Regions from separate parts of the Homo sapiens genome. Here regions 2, 3 and 4 are each linked to region 1. Evidence: fine-mapped expression QTL. A gene starts in region 1. Each other region holds a variant in brackets. All regions are shown on one strand. Distances are between the middles of the regions. Region 1 holds the start of ASIP (agouti signaling protein). Region 2 has its middle 68 kb from the start of CHMP4B. Region 3 overlaps ASIP (agouti signaling protein). Region 4 overlaps RALY (RALY heterogeneous nuclear ribonucleoprotein).

Evidence for each region. PIP is the estimated chance that this variant, and not a neighbour inherited with it, causes the effect.
Region 2: its variant is the best candidate, but not a certain one, in a credible set for the expression of ASIP in tibial nerve (GTEx, PIP 0.79).
Region 3: its variant is the best candidate, but not a certain one, in a credible set for the expression of ASIP in skin (TwinsUK, PIP 0.83).
Region 4: its variant is the best candidate, but not a certain one, in a credible set for the expression of ASIP in unexposed skin (GTEx, PIP 0.53).

The regions. Positions count from the first base shown.
Region 1 is chr20:34,239,172-34,244,502 of GRCh38, forward strand. It overlaps ASIP (agouti signaling protein), which reads left to right and starts at 2,252. Exons shown (of 4, transcript NM_001672.3): 1 at 2,252-2,318. It also overlaps a transcript of AHCY not described here. RefSeq lists enhancers at 2,051-2,120, 2,141-2,290, 3,344-3,845.
Region 2 is chr20:33,877,021-33,882,351 of GRCh38, forward strand. No RefSeq gene overlaps it. Among named protein-coding and RNA genes, the nearest start is that of CHMP4B, 68 kb to the left of the region's middle. The variant TTATTTG/T (reference allele first, on the strand shown) is at 2,731.
Region 3 is chr20:34,259,228-34,264,558 of GRCh38, forward strand. ASIP (agouti signaling protein) reads left to right here. Exons shown (of 4, transcript NM_001672.3): 2 at 1,138-1,307; 3 at 3,605-3,666. The coding sequence starts at 1,148. It also overlaps a transcript of AHCY not described here. Among named protein-coding and RNA genes, the nearest start is that of ASIP, 20 kb to the left of the region's middle. The variant A/G (reference allele first, on the strand shown) is at 2,383.
Region 4 is chr20:34,074,503-34,079,744 of GRCh38, forward strand. RALY (RALY heterogeneous nuclear ribonucleoprotein) reads left to right here. Exons shown (of 10, transcript NM_016732.3): 6 at 1,372-1,538; 7 at 2,200-2,313; 8 at 2,526-2,743; 9 at 4,003-4,051. The coding sequence ends at 4,047. Among named protein-coding and RNA genes, the nearest start is that of MIR4755, 28 kb to the left of the region's middle. RefSeq lists an enhancer at 1,898-3,097. The variant A/G (reference allele first, on the strand shown) is at 3,440.

The sequences.
Region 1 (5,331 bases):
CACCACCTAATATCCATCAGACTCAGTATGTTCCTCTTCTCCTCCCAACCCCATGTTCAAATACTTTTTTTTTTTTTGAGACTGGCCCAGGCTGGAGTGCAGTGGCACAATCTTGGCTCACCGCAACCTCTGCCTCCCAGGTTCAAGCGATTCTCCTGCCTCAGCCTCCCAAGTAGCTGGGACTACAGGCACCTGCCACCACACCTGGCTATTTTTTGTATTTTTAGTAGAGACGGGGTATCACCATGTTGGCCAGGCTCTTCTCGAACTCCTGACCTCAGGTGATCCACCCACCTCGGCCTCCCAATCAAATTCTTTATCCAAAGCCTTACTTGGTGGGTCATATAATGAACTAAAATTTGGAAAACATTCACATTTGTGGAATGCTTCAGAGTTTTCAAGGCGTCTACATTATCTCATTGGATCCTCTTTTCAGCCCAGTGTGGTTGGTAGATGAGATAGCAGTGTTCAGACAGTTTATGTGACTTGTCCAAGATCAGAGAGAAAGTAACAAAGCCTAAACTGGAATCCAGATCTCCTGACTCCCTATTCACTTATCTTTCCAGTTGCCCTTGTCTCTACAAATCACCAAAAGAAATTGGTTCCTAGAAATAAGGATAATGTAGGGGTGTGCCATCCCCTATCCCACTCTTCTGCACCCATCACCACGAAAACAGACAATGTTTATTGCAGGGCCCCATATTAACCTACTTTCTTCTGCAGAGCCTCTAAGCTCCACATTATCCAGGAAGCAATACATTGTGACTGTTGAAGTCAAAATAAAACATAGCGATGAATCTCTAACTTTAAAGCATTCTATTTTGGAAGCAAGGATTGCAGTTTGAGGCATACACACTAACCAGGTGGTCTTCAGTGTGTCTGAGGAACAGAAAGAAGGTTGGGAGTTTTATTAGAGAAATGTTCTATACTGTTTTGAAAGAAAGCTCATTGGCACTAAAGAATCATTTGGAAAGAAGGGAAAAAAAGAGAAAAAAGAAGCATTTGGGAGCTGGCAAACTCTGATTGGTGAGTGATGGTGGTAGGCAAAACTATTCTTAAAGTCATGTTTCAGCAGCTACTAAACTAGTCTTGGGGTTACAGCAGGCCATTTTAGCAGCTGGGCTTGTGAAAAATTTAATTCATGGAGCAGGTGCTGTGCCCCAAGTGCTTCTTCCCTCCTGGTCCCTAGACTCTGATTTAGTTGGGTATGACAAGAATGACCCAGTTTGTGTGATCAGCTTTCACATAACCTTGTAAATTCTAGTTGATCCAAGGAAAACCAACTAAGTAAGGAGAAGAAAAGAACTGCAGCGTCATAGTTTTTGAGTCTGTGTAAGTACAGCCCTTTGACTGAAATCTGAAAATTATGAGACCAATATTCCTGCAAAAAAAGGTCCCAAAGAGATTTTACTAATAAGGTGGGCTGGGCCTCAGCAATCTGCCCATCAAGAGTTTAGCTTCTCCACCAACTACTCCTTAACTCACCCGGAATTTCTGAAACAAGCTGAATTAGACCCTTCTTTGGCAGGACTTGTTTTTCTAGGTTAACTCAATTAGACTGTTTTATTCCGTCTCTTGGGATCCATTCTGAATTAAATTTTCATTAAACTCTGCCCTTGGAGTATCCTTGATGCAACCACTTCCCTTCCAATCCCTTGTAACCTCAATGTCAACATCAATTCCAATTCTAAAGAATTGGGAGAAATATGGGAAGAACAGACCACAAGACTTCTGGCAACCAGAATGAGTATGAAGGCATGACGTTTGCTTGGCTGAAAGCAAAGAGATGAGGTGGGGAAGCCAGCTCTGGGAGATCCTGGGATCTTTAAAAAATCTCAGAGCAACACGCCTTGCCTCTGCTATCCACGGACAGGAAAGACGCTCTGCTTTGGCGACCCTTAGAGGGGCTAATAGAGGCACAGTCACTTGCACCGTAAATAGGAGGAAACAATTTTCTTTTCTTCTGCCGCCTATAGAGATTCTATTTTCTTCTCTAAGTTTAACTTTTATATGAACTGGGTTGCTAGAGAGCTCCTTTGTAAAATAAAGGATAACCCTTTACCTTTTGCTTCTTTTGTAAAACCTCTCTTGATCTGCTTGCAGCTGCCTTTCAGCTGATGAAACATTTCCTATTTTCACTGTGGATCTGAAAGAACCTTCCTGCCTGTGAGATGTGGTGAAGTTTGAAATAATTTTGTAGTATGATTGGTTGTTTTCTTGTTCTTGTCTTTGAAGTTATAGATGAGCAAGCAGCAAATCTCTACAGCTGCAAGGTGAAAAAGGAAGTTCCTTGGCCTGGGCTCTTTGCGGGAAAGCATGTGAGTTTAGATGGCAACTTTAATCTGCTTTCAGGAGTGAAGCTGCTGCTACTTTGGAAAGTTGAAAGGACTTAACAGTTATCCCTCCTTTCTTGGAAAGTTAAACAGATTTTTTTGATTCACTTTTGTGGGTCAGAGTAGTTAAGAGGAGTTCAGTGTGAAGAAAGCAGTTGATCTTTTGCTAACTAGTGGCTTCTTTCTCTTTACTCTGTGCCTTTTCCATTGCCTAGCAGTAAACGAATAAATAAATATATCTATATGTATATCTAAGAAAGAAGTACTCCTAAATATCGACCCTGACCCCAAAGTCACACTTTAATGCTTCTTTAAATGTCTTCAGAAAGTTGCTTGTGGTTTCAGATTTCTAATAACTCTTACAGAGCAGAATTTAGGATTTAGGGATCAGTCTGCACGTGTAGCATTTGTTCATTTCATATTTATTAGAGATGAAACAGATGACCAAAATTCCATTTATTGCAGACTCTCCTTTTCCTTTGTAAATGTTTGACTTTTCTGAATGGATATCCATATTCACACATTTTAATGCCCATTAAAGGAAGCTCAGGTTAATGTTTTCAATTGTAGGTGAGTTCGCTCTGCTTCAGTGATATGGAACATTTTGTTCTGCTGTTTCCATTGGAGGAGATTAAAGAGGCTAAATGGGATGGCATAGTGAAGTCATTTTTGGTTTCCTTTTTAAAATTTTTATTTTATTTTATTTTATTATTTTTATTTTATTTTATTTATTTACTTATTTATTTTTGAGACGGAGTCTCACTGTCACCCAGGCTGGAGTGCAATGGCATGATCTTGGCTCACTGCAACCTCTGCCTCCTGAGTTCAAACGATTCTCCCACCTCAGGCTCCTGAGTAGCTGGGACAACAGGCACACACCACCACGCCTGGCTAATTTTTGTATTTTTAGTAGAGACAGGGTTCCACTATGTTGGCCAGGCTAGTCTCAAACTCCTGGCCTCAGGTGATCTGCCCACCTCAGCCTCCCAAAGTGCTGGGATTACAGGCGTGAGCCACAGCACCCAGCCAGTCATTTTGGGTTTTCTTTGGTTATTTTGGATGCCTTACTGGGACCCACTCAAAAAACAAACAAACAACAAAACAAAACAAAATGAAAAACACTTTCATAAATGTCTGTCTCAAAACCTTTTCTACTTTCTCCAAATAGAACTAATGCATACATATTCTTAAGATTTGCTCAGCTATATCTCCTTGGTTCTGACTTAATCCTCTTCTGCAGAAAATTTCATCTCACATCAAAGCCTCTTCCCTCCTTCTGCTGTAAAGTTGTTGAGAGCTGTCACAGACTGTCAGCTCAGCTTCAGCTATGCTTAATGAGTGCTTGTGCAGAATGCACCCCAGGTAAAGGAATTCAGAAATCAAAAGACATGATTACTGAGAAGGAGAAAAGGCAGAGAAGTGATTTCTGGAGAGCATAAACAAAACCAATATAGTACCCACTAAGGTCTTTGTTGAGTAATGATAGATAAAACAGCCTAAAGGGAATGATGTCAGGAGATCTAAAACAATCATTTAGCATCGCCTATCAGCATTGTATTCCTTGTACACTGTGGGAATGAACATCTGGGAAGCCTAGACTCTGACCCCTGTTTCAGTGGAACAGGGAGACAGATTTCACACTGACAAACAGCTGCCTGAAGGAGTCTTGTCCTTTTGTCCCTTGAGAAGGGACACAGCCTCAAGTCTTCTCTCAAGTTCTAACTCAGGACCCCTCAGGCAGTCTGGGCCTGCCATATGGTTCTTGGTCTCAAAGAAGAGTTCTGAAGCAGGTTGTCTACAGAAGATTCAAACCACCCATTAAAATATTATTCAATTTGGCATCTGTTAGGCATAACAATTAGACTAGCCAATTCAGTCACAATAGTGAAATCGGTACGTGTATGTAGATACAGCCCAAGAGATCAAATAATTTTAGTGTTGTTAAGAAAAAATTATTCTGAATTTTTTTTTACACAAGGACAATTTTAATCCTGCATTTTCCTGTGGTAACATCCACTGCTGGCTAGCTATGGATTGAAACTGCATTTGCTAAGAACTGTGGAGCACATGTTGATACAGGCACACAGACATCTGCCAGCACCAACAGAATACATATGTAACACATACCAGATAGTCTCGATGGATAAATTTGCTCCACCAGTAATTCTATTTAGTAGAATTCACAGTTAATGCAGAATTTCATTTTTAAATTTTACATCTTTCTAATACTTTACATTTTTCTAATATTGTATTTAAAAAAAAAAAAAAAAAACTGTCTCGCCGGGCGCGGTGGCTCACGCCTGTAATCCCAGCACTTTGGGAGGCCGAGGCGGGTGGATCATGAAGTCAGGAGATCGAGACCATCCTGGCTAACACGATGAAACCCCGTCTCTACTAAAAATACAAAAAAATTAACCGGGCGTGGTGGCGGGCGCCTGTAGTCCCAGCTACTCAGGAGGCTGAGGCAGGAGAATGGCGTGAACCCGGGAAGCGGAGCTTGCAGTGAGCCGAGATTGCGCCACTGCACTCCAGCCTGGGCGACAGAGTGAGACTCCATCTCAAAACAAACAAACAAACAAAAAAACTCTCATTCAAGATCGTAATTTGCATGACAATAAACCATGGTTTTGTGGGCTCTAAGTTTCTTAGAAGTGTCCGCAGCAATTTAGAACAAACACCGCAAGTCTTCCTTCCAATTTGCAGCATCTGATTTAAAGTTTAAATTCATCTAATGCATCATTAAAACTGTCATTTTTACTTCTCTTGTCATTAAAACTTCTCTTGTGAGAAGACATGTTTCACTTGCTATTTCCAGGACTACATCTTGAGCATGGGTGTACAGTATTTTTCATTGGTTAGCAGAATTTTACTCACATAATTTATAGCCAGAATAAGAACCTCTAGCCTCTCTGAATGGCCTTCCACTCAGAACAATGATGATGATTAATGTCTAAAATGTGTCTGAGGTGCCCGCCTTTGACATTACCAAAATGTTTCC
Region 2 (5,331 bases), 360 kb before region 1:
CGGGCAGAAGACATCTTCCTAAGATGTCTTCCACGGGGAGCGGTGGGCCTCTGGGATGCCCAAGGTCTCTGCCATCACTCTCTGGTCTCTACACTTTCAGAGGGATCGTGGAGCACTGAATTGCATGGGATCTTAAGATTTCATCTACTCTGGGTGTTTTCAAAACTTTTTTTTTTTTTTAAGAGTTGGGGTCTCGCAGCCTGGCGCGGTGGCTCACGCCTGTAATCCCAGCACTTCGGGAGGCCGAGGTGGGTGAATCACAAGGTCAGGAGATCGAGACCATCCTGGCCAACACGGTGAAACCCCGTCTCTACTAAAAATACAAACATTAGCCGGGCATGGTGGCGGGCGCCTTGTAGTCCCAGCTACTTGGGAGGCTGAGGCAGGAGAATGGCGTGAACCCGGGAGGTGGAGCTTGCAGTGAGCCGAGTTTGCATCACTGCACTCCAGCCTGGGGGACAGAGCAAAATTCCGTCTAAAAAAAAAAAAAAAGAGAGATGGGGTCTTGCTTGTTGACCAGGCTGGAGCACAGTGGTTTGATCATAGCTCACTGCAGCCTGGAACTCCTGTTCTCAAATAATCCTCCTGCCTCAGCCTCCCAAGTAGCTGGGACTACAGTTGTGTGCCACCATAGCCAGCTCCAAATTTATCTTTAAAACTTGTTATAGGCCAGGCACCATGACTTATGCCTGTAATCCCAGAGTTTTGGGAGGCTAAGGTGGGCGGATTGTTTGAGCTAAGGAATTTGAGACCAGTCTGGGCAACATGGTGAAACCCTGTCTCTTCAAAAAAAAATAAATAAATAACATTAGCTTAGTATGGTGGTGCGTGCCTGTAGTCCCAGCTACTCAGGAGGCTGAGGTCTGATGATCACTTGAGCCTGGGAGGTCGAGGCTGCAGTGAGCCATGATTGCACCACTGCACTCCAGCCTGGGTGACAGAGTGAGACTGTGTCTCAAAAAAACAAAAACAAAAACAAAACTTGTTACAGAGCCCTTTCTCCAAGGAATATCTTACATCAAAGCCAGATATATAAGAGAAACCATGAGGGACCGACTCTATTTGAGGTGGGGAACTGGGAGACCCAGCTCTTTGATGGCTCCCTTCACTGTGGCTGTAAGACCCTTGGAGAGATCAAGTTCAGCCACCTCATTTTCCCAGTCTGCTTCCACCTGCCTAAAGTCACCCCCAAATCTGACACTACATGGCACATGTCAGTGGGATGCTCGAGGAATAAAAGCCACGTGGGTGTTCTGCTGTTGCTCACCAACCACACTGCAGTGCTGGGAGCCGTATCCTGGCAAGTGTTCAAGGTGGCGCTAGGGAACAGAGAAGGGGTTGTGAGGGTGTCGTGGGCACAGGCCCCGGAGGGACAGTGAGCTTAATAGGAGTGTGTGTGTGTGTGTGTGTGTGTGTGTGTGTGTGTGTGTGATGGTGGTGGTGGTGGTGCTGGTGGTGGTGTGGGGATTACAAACAGGAAGGAAATCTCATTAGATGGGCTGGGTCTTGGTCCAAAGACCAGATAAACTAGGATGTCACAGGTGGGGACAGAGTCCAAGATTCAATGTCTTCAGAACTCTCCTGATCAATAGTTATGAGATTCCATGATTCACAAAGACAGGGACCATGTTTCATTTATTTAACACATATTTATTTACCTCTTTCAAACAACAAGCTGGGGGAACCGATCTTACTGATTTAGTTAGCATCTATGGGAAAGCTGTGGTGTCAATCAGGGCTCTTTTGGTTGAAAATGAGAGAACATTATAACTCATTCCCCGTCCCTCAATGAATTGGGACTTTGTGGGCACCTGAAACTGAAAAGTTCAGGAGTATCTTCAGGTTGAACTTGATCAAAGACTCAAATAACATGACCAAGATGGGATTCACTTCTCTATCTCTTTAATCATTTTCCTTCTTGTTGAAGCACATCCTTTAATCTTTTGGTGAGGGCCTGTGGGTAGTAAACTCTAAATCATGTATATCTGGAAATATATATATATATATATATTTTTTTTTTTTTTTTTGAGACAGAGTCTTGCTCTATTGTCCAGGCTGGAGGGCAGTGGCACAACCTCCACCCACTGGGTTCAAGCTATTTTCATGCCTCAGCCTCCTGAGTAGCTGGGACTATAGGTGTGCACCACCACACCCAGCTAATTTTTGTATTTTTAGCAGAGACAGGGTCTCGACTTGTTGGCCAGGCTGGTCTTGAACTTCTGGCCTCAAGTGATCCACCCACCTCAGCCTCCCAAAGTGCTGGGATTACAGGCATGAGCCACCACGCCCAACCTGGAAATATGTTTTGATCTCACTCTTCAGTGACAGTTTAGCTAGGTATAGAATTCTAGGCTGACAAGTATTTTTTCACTGTGTTTGGAGATATTAGTCTACTCCTTTCTGGCTCCTATTGTTGCTAATTAGAAGTCTATTTTTTAGTCTAATTGTTTCTTTGAAAGGAATCTGTCTTTCCCACCCTTCTGGCAGCTTCAAAAGTTTTCTCTTTACCCTTAAAGTTGTCCAAGTGCAATTAGACATGCCTAAGCGTAGATTTTATTTATTTGTTTATTTTTGAGACAAGATCTGGCTCTGTCACCCAGACTGGATCGCAGTGGCATAATCATAGTTCACTGCAGCCTTGACCTCCTGAACTCGGGTAATCCTCCTGCCTCAGCCTCCCAAGTAGCTGGGACCACAGGCACATGCCACCACACCCAGCTAATTTTAAAA[TTATTTG/T]TAGAGACAGAGTCTCCCTATATTGTCCAGGCTGGTCTTGAACTCCTGGACTCAAGTGATCCTCTTGCCTTGGCCTCCCAAAGTGCTGAGATTACATGTTTGAGCCACTGCACTCAGCCTAGATTTATTTTTATCCCACTCTGAACTATGGCTTTTCTCTGTGAAGACAGTGCTTTCTTCAATTTGAAAAATTCTTATATATTATATTTTACTATATTTTATTTTATTTTATTTTATTTTTTTGAGACAGAGTCTCACTCTGTCACCCAGGTTGGAATGCAGTGGTGTGATCTCAGCTCTCTGCAACCTCCGCCTCCTGTCTCAGCCTCCTGAGTAGCGGGGATTACAGGTGCCCGCCACCATACCTGGCTAATTTTTGTATTTTTTAGTAAAGACAGGGTTTCATCATGTTGGCCAGGCTGGTCTCGAACTCCTAACCTCAAGTGATCTGCCTGCCTCAGCCTCCCAAAGTTCTGGGCCATGCCTGGCCCCTATTATAGTTTCCTTTATTGCTTTTCCCACATCCTCTTTACTGTCTCTTATTGGAATTCCTATTCCTGTTGTACATCCTATTAGATATATAATGGATCATTTCATTTCATCCTCCATCTTAACTTCCCCTTTATGTTTCACATTTCTTTATCTCTCTCTGTGCTGTATTCTGGGCGAACACCTCTGATAGGTGTTCTATAGCCCCCAATACTTCTGAGTGTGATTATATTGGAGATAGGGTCTTTGAAGAGGTGACTAAGTTAAAATGAGGCTATCAGGGTGGCCCCTAATGCAATCTGACTGGTGTCCCTATAAGAGGAAATGTGGATGCACCAAGGGGCAGGAAGGATGAGCATGCGCAAGGGAGACCATGTGAGGACACAGCAAGGAGGTGGCCGTCTGCAAGCCAAAGAGCAAGACCTCCGATAAAACCAAACACCAGCACCCTGATCTGGGACTTCTAGCCTCCAGAACTGAAAGTTAATAGATTGCTGTTGCTTAAGCCACTCTACTGTTTTATTATGACAGGGCCAGTAAATGAATATGACAGACTACTGTCAAACCCACCTATTGAGTTTCTCTCTTTCTTTTTGCTTTGTTTGTTTTTTCAGTTTATCTTGGGTGACTTTTTTTTTTCTATGGCCCAGGGCAAGACACCCACTTCTAGGCTGCAGCCCAAGGTTATTGGGCAGTTTTTCCAGTCCCAAGAAGAAACAGCTGACTTCCAGCTTTTTCCTGATGTAGGGAGCCTAGTTTCAGCTGGAGGGCTCTCACAGGGCCAGGAGCCTTGTCTTTCGTCCTCACAGAGGCATTCAAACCCCAGTGCCATTCAGAAGTCTGGATATGGCAGCCCCAGGTGACTTAGTGGCTCCATGAAGCTGCCAGGGACTTGGACACCTTTGATCTTCACATTTTAGCACCCTTGGGGTGCGGCTTTAACCCTCTTGTTGCACTTCCAGGCATCTCATCTCCAAATGCCCCATGTCTTCTGTCTTTTGTTTGCTTCTTTGTTTTGAGACAGGGTCTCACTCCATCACCCAGGCTGGAGTGCAGTGGTGTGATTACAGCTCACTGCAACCTCAACCTCCCAGGCTCAAGTGAACCTCCTACCTCGGCCTCCTGAGTAGCTGGGACTACAGGTGTGTGCCACCACACCTGGCTAACTTAATTTTTTTTTTTTTTTTGAGACAGTTTCACTCTTGTTGTCCAGGCTGGAGTGCAATGGTGAAATCTCAGCTTGCTGCAACCTCTGCCTCTTGGGTTCAAGCGATTCTCCTGCCTCAGCCTCCCGAGTAGCTGGGATTACAGGTATGTGCCACCACGCCCGGCTAATTTTGTATTTTTAGTAAAGACAGGGTTTCACCATGTTGGTCAGGCTGGTCTTGAACTCCCGACCTCAGGTGATCTACTGACCTCGGCCTCCCAAAGTGCTGAGATTACAGGCATGAGCCACCGCACCCGGAAATTTTTTTTTTTTTTTTTGTAGAGACAGGTCACGCTATGTTGCCCAGGCTGGTCTCAAACTCCTGAGCTCAAGCGATCCTCCTGCGTCTGCCTACAAAAGTGTTGAAACTACAGCCACAAGCCAACGCGCCCGGCCTTATGTGTTATCTCTTGCCACATAGTGGCCTCTGCTCCAAGGGAAGCGGGAAGAGTGAGTTTTTTCAGTGGTACCTTTCCTCCCCATCCTGAAAACAAATGTGATTCTCCTCCTAAAGAAGTAGAGCAAGTGGGTGTAGAGTTGTTAACATGCAATGTCTGCCACATAAAACATGATCCCCATTTTGGTGAGGAAATCACAGCCTGGAGAGGTGTGGTGATTTACACAGCCTGGATTCGATTGCACTGAGCCTGCCCCACCCTCACCCTGCTCTGATTCAGGGACCCTGGCCTGGCCCTCATCTTTGGTGGTTGCTGTCGTCAAGGCACTGGCCTTGCGTGATGGATGAGCAGGCAGCCTCATTAAACACAAACCCTTGTTGGTTTCCCAAAGCCCACAGGAGCAGCGAGGCCCGGGATCTGGGAGCAGGGAAGCTGAACAGGACCCCATCTGTCCTGTTCCCTCCGGCTTCTGCTCAAACAGGCATTTGTCTGCCATGGCAA
Region 3 (5,331 bases), 20 kb after region 1:
AAAAAAACTATATGAGCTTGAGTTAGAAAATATAGGCCAGGTGCAGTGGCAGTGGCTGGCGGATCACTTGAGGACAAGAGTTCGAGACCAGCCTGGCCAACATGGTGAAATCCCGTCTTTACTAAAAATACAAAAATTAGCCAGGTGTGGTGGTGGGCACCTGTAATCCCAGCTACTCTGGAGGCTGAGGCACGAGAATCTCTTGAACCTGGGAGGAGGAGGTTGCAGTGAGCCAAGATCGTGCCACTGCACTCCAGCCTAGCTGACAGAGCAAGACTCTGTCTCAAAAAAAATAAAAAGAGTTAGAAAATATAAAATGCTTAGTCTGGCCAATGTGGTAAAATCCTGTCTCTACAAAAAATACAAAAATTAGCCTGGCATAGTGATGGGCACCTGTAGCCCTAGCTACTGGGGCAGGAGACTGAGGCAGGAGAATCACTTGTACCTGGGAGGTGGAGGTTGCAGTGAGCCGAGATTATGCCACTGCACTCTAGCCTGGGCAACAAGAGAGAGACTCCATCTAAAAAAAAAAAAATCCAGCTAGCAAATAAATAAATACATAAATCCAGGGGGCCTATGTCAACAGCTCCATCCTCCTGACACAAACTATACCTGCATTCGTTCTCTCTGGGTTTGGGAATCTAGGATATGAGCCAACATATATGCTTGTCTGAAGGGGCCACTTACCTCTTCATCTTTCTCACTGAGACTTAATTTATTAGCCTTATTCTGTACATCTTAATAAAATCTCTGCTACTGTGAGGCCCTACTGGGGGCCTTTCAACAACTCTGCCCAGGCCTGGGGTCTCCTGGGGCCACAGACATTAAAAAAACACACAGAAGCAGCCAACACACCACCCTCTGGACAGCAGAGACCAGTGCAATGCATTGCTTTTTCTCTTTGCTCCAATCTCCTTCTGTTCCTTGTCTTTCTCTCTTCCTCTTCCCATCTCTCTTCTCTCTTCTTCCCTCATCAATTCCCCTTCCCCATCCTAAGCCTTGCTAATCCTCCAGCTCCACCAGGACACTTGCCTAACAGGGTCACAACACCAGCCCAAAGAAGCACAAAGAAAGCAGGAAGGCCTCTTACCATTACCCCTGACCCACCCACCTGACCACCTTCTCTGTCCCACTCAGGCCTCCTGGGATGGATGTCACCCGCTTACTCCTGGCCACCCTGCTGGTCTTCCTCTGCTTCTTCACTGCCAACAGCCACCTGCCACCTGAGGAGAAGCTCCGAGATGACAGGAGCCTGAGAAGCAACTCCTCTGTGAACCTACTGGATGTCCCTTCTGTCTCTATTGTGGGTAAGTCACCTAGCCTCTGGGCTCTGGCCCAGGAGAGGGGCTGCAGGAGATCAAGCATGCTTCCCAGGGTGCTACCAGGATCCACCGCCATGGTCACGGCTCCTTCTTGCTCGTTCCAGGAAATAATCCTGGGAGAATAAGGTGGCCCTTGACTCATTTGGTTTGGGAAAGCTCTGCATGCCACCAGTCTAATAAGCAGCTTAGCATATGGTAGAGGCTCTGAAAGGCCTGAAGTTAAGACACTTGGTGAACTTTGTTTAATTTAGCATTTCTGAAACTTAATGAATCACAGAACTCCTGTCAACAGTAACAAACTTCAGGAAATGCTCCAGAACATATGCAAGTCTGGGATGGACCAGTCCTGTCATGTCAGGGTTGGGAATGAAGGCTCAGGGGAAAATATGAGGGGCACTGGAGCCTGGCATTGGAGATCTGGTTTGACTTCACCTGATAATAATCATAGACATACTGTGTGGTAGGCACTGTGAGGTGAGTATGGTCTTTATTCATATTTCACAGTTGAGGAACTTGAGGCTTAGGAGAATTAAGTAACTAGCACGGATCACACAGTTTTTAACTGGCAAAGCCAGAATTCAAAATCAGGTACTTAACTCCAGAACCTAAGCTCAAAACTAATATCTCTTACTACCTCGGCTTTTGCTAGGAAACGAGGATATTTGAGGCTGGGTGAGGTGGCTCACACCTGTAATCCCAGCACTTTGGGAAGCTGGAGGCATGAGGATTGTTTGAGCCTAGGAGTTCAAGACCAGACTGAGCGACATAGGGAGACCCCGTCTCTACAGAAAAATTTAAAAACTAGCAAGGCACGTGGCATGCACCTGTAATCCCAGCACTTTCGTAGGCTGAGGCGGGCAGATCTCTTGAGCTCAGGTGTTCAAGACCAGCCTGGTCAACAGGGTGAAACCCCGTCCCTATTAAAAATACAAAAATTAACCAGGCATGGTAGCATGCGCCTGTAGTCCTAGCTACTTGGGAGGCTGAGGCAGGAGGATCACTTGAGCCCAGGAGTTTGAGCCTACAATGAGCCATGATTGTGCCACTGCACTCCAGCCTG[A/G]GTGACAGAGTGAGATCCTGTCTCAAAAACAAACAAACAAAAACTAGCCGGGAATGGTGGTGCATGCCTATGGTTCCAGCTATTTGGGAGGCTGAGGCAGGAGGATTGCTTGAGCCCAGGAGGTCGACGCTGCAGTGAGCTATGATCACACCATTGCACTCCAGCCTGGGTGACAGACAGACCCTGACTCAAAAAAGAAATTTTTTAATAAATAAATAATCGGCCAGGCGCGGTGGCTCACACCTCTAATCCCAGCGCTTTGGGAGGCCAAGGTGGGCAGATCACCTGAGGTCAAGAGTTTGAGACCAGCCTGGCCAACATGGCAAAACCCCATCTCTACTAAAAATACAAAAATTAGCCAGGTGTGGTGGTACATGCCTGTAATCCCAGCTACTTGGGAGGCTGAGACAGGAAAATCACTTGAACCCAGGAGGCAGAAGTCACAGTGAGCCGAGATCGCACCACTGTACTCCAGCCTGGGCAACAGAGTGAGACTCTGTCTCAAAAGAAAAAAAAAAGAAGAAGAAGAAAGAAAGAGGATATTCTACACATATCAGACAGGGAAGGGAGGAACATCAACATTTATTGATCTTCAGTGTAACAGACTTTTCACTTTATAAACAGACTTCATTTATCCTCAAGACAATACTGCAAGGCAGATATTATGGAACCTTTTTTGCAGATGAAAAAACTGAGTCTCATGGAGGATAAGTAAGTTACCCACAGCCACATAGTCATTATATTGGCAGAGTCAGGATTCAAATCAGGTCCTCCTGGCTCCAGAGCTCTCAGGAATGGAAAATAGGAAACACAGGTGCATCTGTGTACAAGACAGGAGTCCATTTTCTGGGTATCACAATGTTCCTGTGCCTGCCACAATGGAGATGAAGGAAGGGGCACCTGGGGTGGCTCTGAGTGGCCCAAGCTCACTTAGGTCGAGGGACCAGGCCCCACAAGAGTGTCACAGGCAGATCCCAGTGCCTGCTTGGATTTCCCATTTGCCTTCCCTCAGAGGACACGTTGCTATCAGTGCCTGGCTCCAGGTCAGTAGCCGGGCTAACAAGAACCTACTGGCTTGAGTCCTACAGTGTGACTCATCCAGCACGCTTCTTCTCCTCTCCCTGACCTTGTGACTTCCCAAGCCCCCTCTGCCCCTCTCACTTCACTGCAGCTCAACGTCCCCAGAAACATCTGACTTTGCTCCTTTTGTCTCTCTTTGAAGCGCTGAACAAGAAATCCAAACAGATCGGCAGAAAAGCAGCAGAAAAGAAAAGATCTTCTAAGGTAAGGGCAGGGAAGTTCTGGGAGTTCTCATTGTTGGGGTGAGACTGGACTTAAAGAAGGAGGACCCCCAACCTCTGGCTAGGAACTAAATGAAAGATTTTTCAGGCCTATATTAACAAAAGAAACTGAAAGCTACTAAAGACTTCCTGGCTTGAGCTCTGAGCCAGACACCCACAGAAGCCCAGGGAGCTGAAGTCCACTGAGCAAAATAGGTTACGAAAAGCAGCTTCCTCTACTAGTTAGCCCCTGCCTGAAATTTCACCATCACTCATACTTTTGGATGAATGTGGTGTTTCCCAAACCTCAGTCATTTCAGAACCACATTTATAACTTTGCCATATCTGAGTTCCACCTATTTATTTAACATATTTGTTTAAAATTAAATCTTAGGCCGGATGCGGTGGCTCACGCCTATAATCCCAGCACTTTGGGAGGCCAAGGTGGGTGAATCACCTGAGGTCAGGAGTTCGAGACTAGCCTGGCCAACATGGTGAAACCCCGTCTCTACTAAAAATACAAAAATTAGCCAGGCGTGGTGGTGGGCGCCTGTAATCCCAGCTACTTGGGAGGCTGAGGCAGGAGAATTGCTTGTACCCGGGAGGTGGAGGTTGCAGTGAGCTTGAGCCATTGCACTCCAGCCTGGTGACAAGAGTGAAACTCTGTCTCAAAACAACAACAACAAAAAATTAAAACTTAAAAAATGCAGTTGACTCTTGAACACATGTGTTTGAACTCATGGGTCCACTTATACATTGGTTATTTTATGTCTTTTTTTTTTTTTCTTTTTTTTTGAGATGGAGTTTTCGCTCTCGTTGCCCAGGCCAGAGTTCGGTGGCGTGATCTTGGCTCACTGCAACCTTCACCTGGCGAGTTCAAGCGATTCTCATGCCTCAGCCTCCCGAGTAGCTGGAATTACAGGCACATGCCACCATGCCCAGCTAATGTTTTTGTATTTTTAGTAGAGATGGGGTTTCGCCAAGTTTGTCAGGCTGGTCTCGAACTCCTGACCTCAGGTGATCCACCTGCCTCAGCCTACCAAAGTGCTGGGATTACAGGGGTGAGCCACCTTGCCCAGCTGACTTTTTAAATTGGAAAATATTTTTGAAGATTGACAATTAGAAAAAACAGGTGAATCTTGTTACCTAGAAATATTTAAAAAATGAAAAAAAAGTATGTCATTAATGCATAAAATATATGTAGATACTAGTCTATTTTATCACTTGCTATCATACAATATACATAAATCTATTATAAAAAATTAAAATTTCCCAAAACATATGTACACACAGACAGTACATACCATTCAAAATAGAAAGAAAATAACCAAATGTAAAGATGTAGTACTAAATCATAACTGTGTAAACAACTGCAGTACATACTGTACTACCATCATAATTGTGAAGATACCTCCTGTTGCCATTGCGGCATGCTCAGGTGTTGCGAGTACGTGCTTACAACGCTCTGTGAGCTAATCATCTCTGCACAAGGAGTCTCACCAGGAAATCACATATTGCAGTAAAATGTGATCCCTCAAGGTTCTCGTGTATTTTTCAATGTGTTTAATGCAATATTGTAAACCTTGAGTAGTACCAAGGGACCCATACTAGGTGCTACTAGTGATTCTGGAAGTGTTCCCAAGAAGCAAAGAAGAGTCATGACATTACA
Region 4 (5,242 bases), 160 kb before region 1:
AGCCCAAGAAGAACAGTGCCTCTCTGAGCATGAGTCGTCCGCCCCCATCCCCACCCCGCCCCTGTGAGTCGTTTCAGGAGACAGTGTGGTGTAGTGGAAAGTGTCTTAGCCTGGGGGTCAGAAGATTTAGATGCTAATCTCAGCTCTGCCACTGAATGGATTATGTGATCTTGGGCAAATTCCCTTCCCAGTTTGTGAAATGGGCTTGCACCAAGTGATCTCTCCAGGCTCCTCCAGCTCTGGGATTCTGTGGTTCAGTGATTCTGACCAAGGCCAGAGCCGTTCCCTCCCCTTGGGGGCAGAAATGCAGGGTCTGGGATCGGATCCATTCCCAGAGACTCTCCATCTGCAGCCATCACCACCTCCAGGAAGGGGCTCCCTGAACAAAGGAGCCCCAAGGAATGGGGCTTTTGCCCAGTGATGGCAGGTTTCCTGGCCGTTGTCAGGAAAATTGACCCAAAGTTTACCCCCTGGGCTGCGATTCCCTGAAAAAGGTGGCAGCAACAGATGTCAGAGAGACCACTTCTCAGCCTACTGAGTTTCTGCCTGGTCAGCTGGAAAGGAAGCCCTCCTAGAGAGGGCTTGGAGATGACTTTGGTTGGGGGCAGTGCACAGCCTGGGAGCCCTGGGGGGGTCTGATTGAGCTGCCCAACCTTGATACTCTACCAAGCCCCTGGCCTTTGTCTCTGGAATGGAGCACGAAGGATGTGGTGATTAAGGAGGTCAAGTAAGGAAAGGGCTTAGAGTTCAGTCTTATGCCTCTGAGGTCATGGGTTCGTGAATTGAGGGTCTCAGTACCCTGACCTTTCATCTATTACACGTTCTAAAGTGTGTTTTTAACCGAATTCTTTCATGCTGTGCCCTTGGGTGGACACTGAATGTGGATAGCCATCCTCATTTGGCATATGGGGAAACTGAGGCTCAGGTAGGCTCAGTTGACCCCCACTCCCATACCTCTCTATTCCTAGCTGGGGATTTGTGCTGCTTTGAGATTTGCAAACTCTGAGCAGAGGTTGGGGTGGCAGTTGACCAAGCAGAAGCCAGGTCATGTAATAGAGCAGGCCTGGGTGCCAGGGGACCTAGGGATGTCTCCTCTTTTGAATGGGGTATAACTGCTACCACCTGATGCCTTGCCTGCCCTTACTGGGCCTGGATGGTTGGAGAGGTTGTAGTGAGGTAGTGAGGATCCCAACAGCCATCAGGGTCCGGCAAGCCCTTCCTCTTCACTCCAGGGCTTGCTAGGAGCCAGCAGAGGTGTGTAGTGCAGGCCTCCCAGCCCCTCACCAGCCACACACGTTTGTAGCCGGAGCTGCAATACCGCCCTGGTGGCCACAAGCCATGCTGCAGCCTCTGGCCCATCTGCCCTCACAGGCTCTTCGACTACCGGGGCCGTCTGTCGCCCGTGCCAGTGCCCAGGGCGGTCCCTGTGAAGCGACCCCGGGTCACAGTCCCTTTGGTCCGGCGTGTCAAAACTAACGTACCTGTCAAGCTCTTTGCCCGCTCCACAGCTGTCACCACCAGCTCAGCCAAGATCAAGTGTGAGTGACTGTATCATATTCCTAAGTAATTTGCATTTTTATCATTAGCAAAATAATAGAATCACATTTTTTACATTGGAACATAGATAAAACAACAAGTCTTCCACAGTTCTGCTGCTCTAACACAGCCAAGTATTTTCATGCATTTCTAAGAGGAAACAGCTGATGTTTTAGGAGGAGGGGTTGTGTTGGGCACAGAGAGTCCAGTGCTGGATATGGTGCCCAGTGAAGAAATGGTGCCATCTTTCCTCTAGTAAGGATAAGGACAGGTCTACCCAGGCCCATTACTCCACATTCACTCTGGTACACACATGCTGCTTAACTAATCACCCAGGAATTCAGATTCCAAAAGACACATGTTCTTGCTCAGGTGCACACAGAAGAGCACACCACACATACACACCTGTGCTCCTGTCTGTCTTTGGTCCCTTTCAGAGTTGAGAGATCAGGAGAAAAGATAGCCAGGTTCAGAAGTGTGTGCTGTCACTGTAGGGATGGACGCCAGGTAGTCTAAGGAGGAGACCTTTTTCCTAAGCAGGGAAAAAACAAAACAAAACAAAAAATAACTGCTTTCCTGGTTGAAAGAACAGGGCTGAGGTTTTGTGCTAGTGTCAAGCCTCCAGCCCCCTAGGTGACAGCCCTGTCCCCCCTCCACTCCCAGTAAAGAGCAGTGAGCTGCAGGCCATCAAGACGGAGCTGACACAGATCAAGTCCAATATCGATGCCCTGCTGAGCCGCTTGGAGCAGATCGCTGCGGAGCAAAAGGCCAATCCAGGTCAGCCTCTGAGGATTCTCACCCACCTCCATGACCAGGGCACAGGGCAGAGCATGGGGAAATAGTACATGGGAGAGAGGAGCTAGGGTGGCCCTGCAGATCCTGGACCACCTGCACTCACCATGCTGAGGCCAGCTTCCGCTAAGGTGCTGCCCTAGACAGCTACCCCAGGCTGAGTTTTATTCTCCCCTCCTCCACCCCTTCCCCTCAAGATGGCAAGAAGAAGGGTGATGGAGGTGGCGCCGGCGGCGGCGGCGGTGGTGGTGGCAGCGGTGGCGGTGGCAGTGGTGGTGGCGGTGGCGGTGGCAGCAGCCGGCCACCAGCCCCCCAAGAGAACACAACTTCTGAGGCAGGCCTGCCCCAGGGGGAAGCACGGACCCGAGACGACGGCGATGAGGAAGGGCTCCTGACACACAGCGAGGAAGAGCTGGTGAGGGCCTGGCCAGGGGCACGACTGGGACTCGACTGTGCTCCTACTCTCAGGAGGCCAACAGGGGAATGGGCAGCCTGAGCTGGTTGCCCCCACTGTGAACTTCCTGTTCTCTCCTTCCCAGGGGTTCTGGTCCTGGGGGAAAGAGGGAAGAATGAGCAGGGGGCACTTGCCTATCTCAGACACCATCAGAAGTCCCACTGAGGCCTAGGGCAGACCTCCCCCAAATGCGGGCACATTCTGGCCTCCGGTTTCCACATGAGTTGGAGAATGGGAGATTCGGACATAAGGGAGCACACACGGCCTGCAGAGCTTCAGAGCAGGGCTGGGGTGGCTTGTGGAGGCCACAGCCAGGAGGTGGGTTTTTCTAAAAGCCATTGCTGCTTAAGCATGAAGCAAAAGCTGTCTCATAAGGGGGTGAGCTCCCCGCCTGTTACTAGAACTATTCAGGCTGAGGCCGGCAGGCCATTTGACAAGGAGCTTATGTTGAGTGGGAGGGTGGACCAAACTCTGAGTCTGTGGGATATGGGTTGTACACTTGCTGCTCATTTACTTAATGAGCGCTCATTGAGCACCAAGACCCAGATCATACTCTCTAACTTCACATAACCTTAACAAGAGCCCTGTACTATGCAGAGTATTCTGTTCCCACATTTTACCCTGTGAGGAAATCGAGGCTCAGAAAGGCTGAGTGGC[A/G]TGCTCAGGGCATCAGCTCGTAGGGACTGAGCCAGGGTTGGAGTCCAGACTGACTTGCTGGATCTGCAGCTTTCTCCTTTTCAGCACTGCTGGGTTCTATCGTGAGAACAGATGGGCTCATGGCCATGACGGTTAGGAGGTCTGCCTTATGCTAGCTCATCTCTCCTTTGAGCGTAGCCTGATCCTTCATCTTATTTTCTCAGGCATAGCAGTGTCCATAAAGGCCCTAACAAAGACTTGGATGCCCCCAGAGATGGGGAGCTCACCAGTCTATAAGGCTTTCAGCCTTCTCCAGTGCAGGCTCTCTGCACAGAAATGGGGCTCCTGCCACTCCCAGAACACCCTTCACTGGCCTGTGTGGGGTCCTCAGACCACCCTTCCAAGTTCCCAAGCCAGCTTTGTTGGCTGGTCCCATAGTCATTCCCCTTGGCTGTTCCTGCGTCTTCTGACTGTGTCCTCTAGATGCCCTCTGGACCATGAAGTTTTTCTGGACAAATGGCTCAGGGCAGGACTCAGAGCTGGCAATGAGTGATGTGTGGTCTCTCTTACCTCCTCCCTATCAGGAACACAGCCAGGACACAGACGCGGATGATGGGGCCTTGCAGTAAGCAGGTACAGGGGTCCTGTCCTGATGGGCAGAGGGTGGGGAATCAGTGAAGTGGAGGTTGTGCCTTTTCCCTGGATTGGGCAGGAAGTGTCACGAAGCATACCTGGCCAAGTAGCACTGACTATACCCAAGAATGAAGTCCCCTCCATATCTAGCCATCCCGTCACACCCCTTCATGCTTGGGGCTTGCCATGCTGAGGAAGCAGGTGCCGTAGATGGGCCAGGCGGGCCCACCTAGCAAGGGTTCCTTCCCTCAGCACACTCAGCCATGTTGCCTGTCTCTGCCCTTGAGGAGCTCCTAGTCTGGTAGAGGAAGACATAAGCCATTACCACCTAGTGTGAGCAGGATAACAATAGAGCGAGGCCAGGTCATGGAAGAGATGATGTGTAGCTGAGCCTGCTAGTGATTGAGGGAGCAATGTTCCACACCAGGGGAATGGCCTTAGCCATACAGAGCTGTGACAGTCCTTGGTATGTGGTGAGGCCAAGAGCCTCCTGTGGCTGCAGTGCCCCCCTAGTTGGTAGAGGACTCTGCTTATTGTCAGAGGGTGATGATTGTGAAGGGCCGTATGTGTCAGGCTTAGGGGCTGGGATTTGATTCTTTCATGGGGAGGAAATGCCCTGTGTGACAGGAGCTGCACCTGCTTTCTCTGAGTTCATCTTCAATCCCACAAGCTGATGATTGTACCAATATAATAGATGTGGAAACAGACACTAAAGGGTGCAGGGAGATAAGGTAGTAGTTGGTGGAGCCTGGATTTCAGCCCAGTGGTGTGTGGCTTCAAAGCCCACTCTCTGGCCACTGTTTACCATCTACTCTGCCCTACCTTAAAGGAAAGCCAGGCCACACCTGGCTGTGCCTACTACTCTCTGACCCATTCCCTTGGGGTGGCTTGGGTGGAGGAAGGTCTCAAACACTAGTGTTTCCAGGGAGGTGTCTGGATAGATGACACATTTATGCTGTAGTAAGATATCCCACCAGCAAAGGCTTCCAGAAGAGCTTTAGAAAATTGTACATATGCAGTCTTCTTTTGGAACTTCTTGGTTTGTTTTGCCTGGGATGCAAACAAACCTCCATATCCAGCCATCCTGCTACACCCCTTTGTGCCTGGTGCTTTCCAAAGCTTGTTAAAATAGTTCACAGGTGAGTTATATGGGCTCAGGTGAGGAAATGGAGGTTCAGAGAGCGGGTGAGA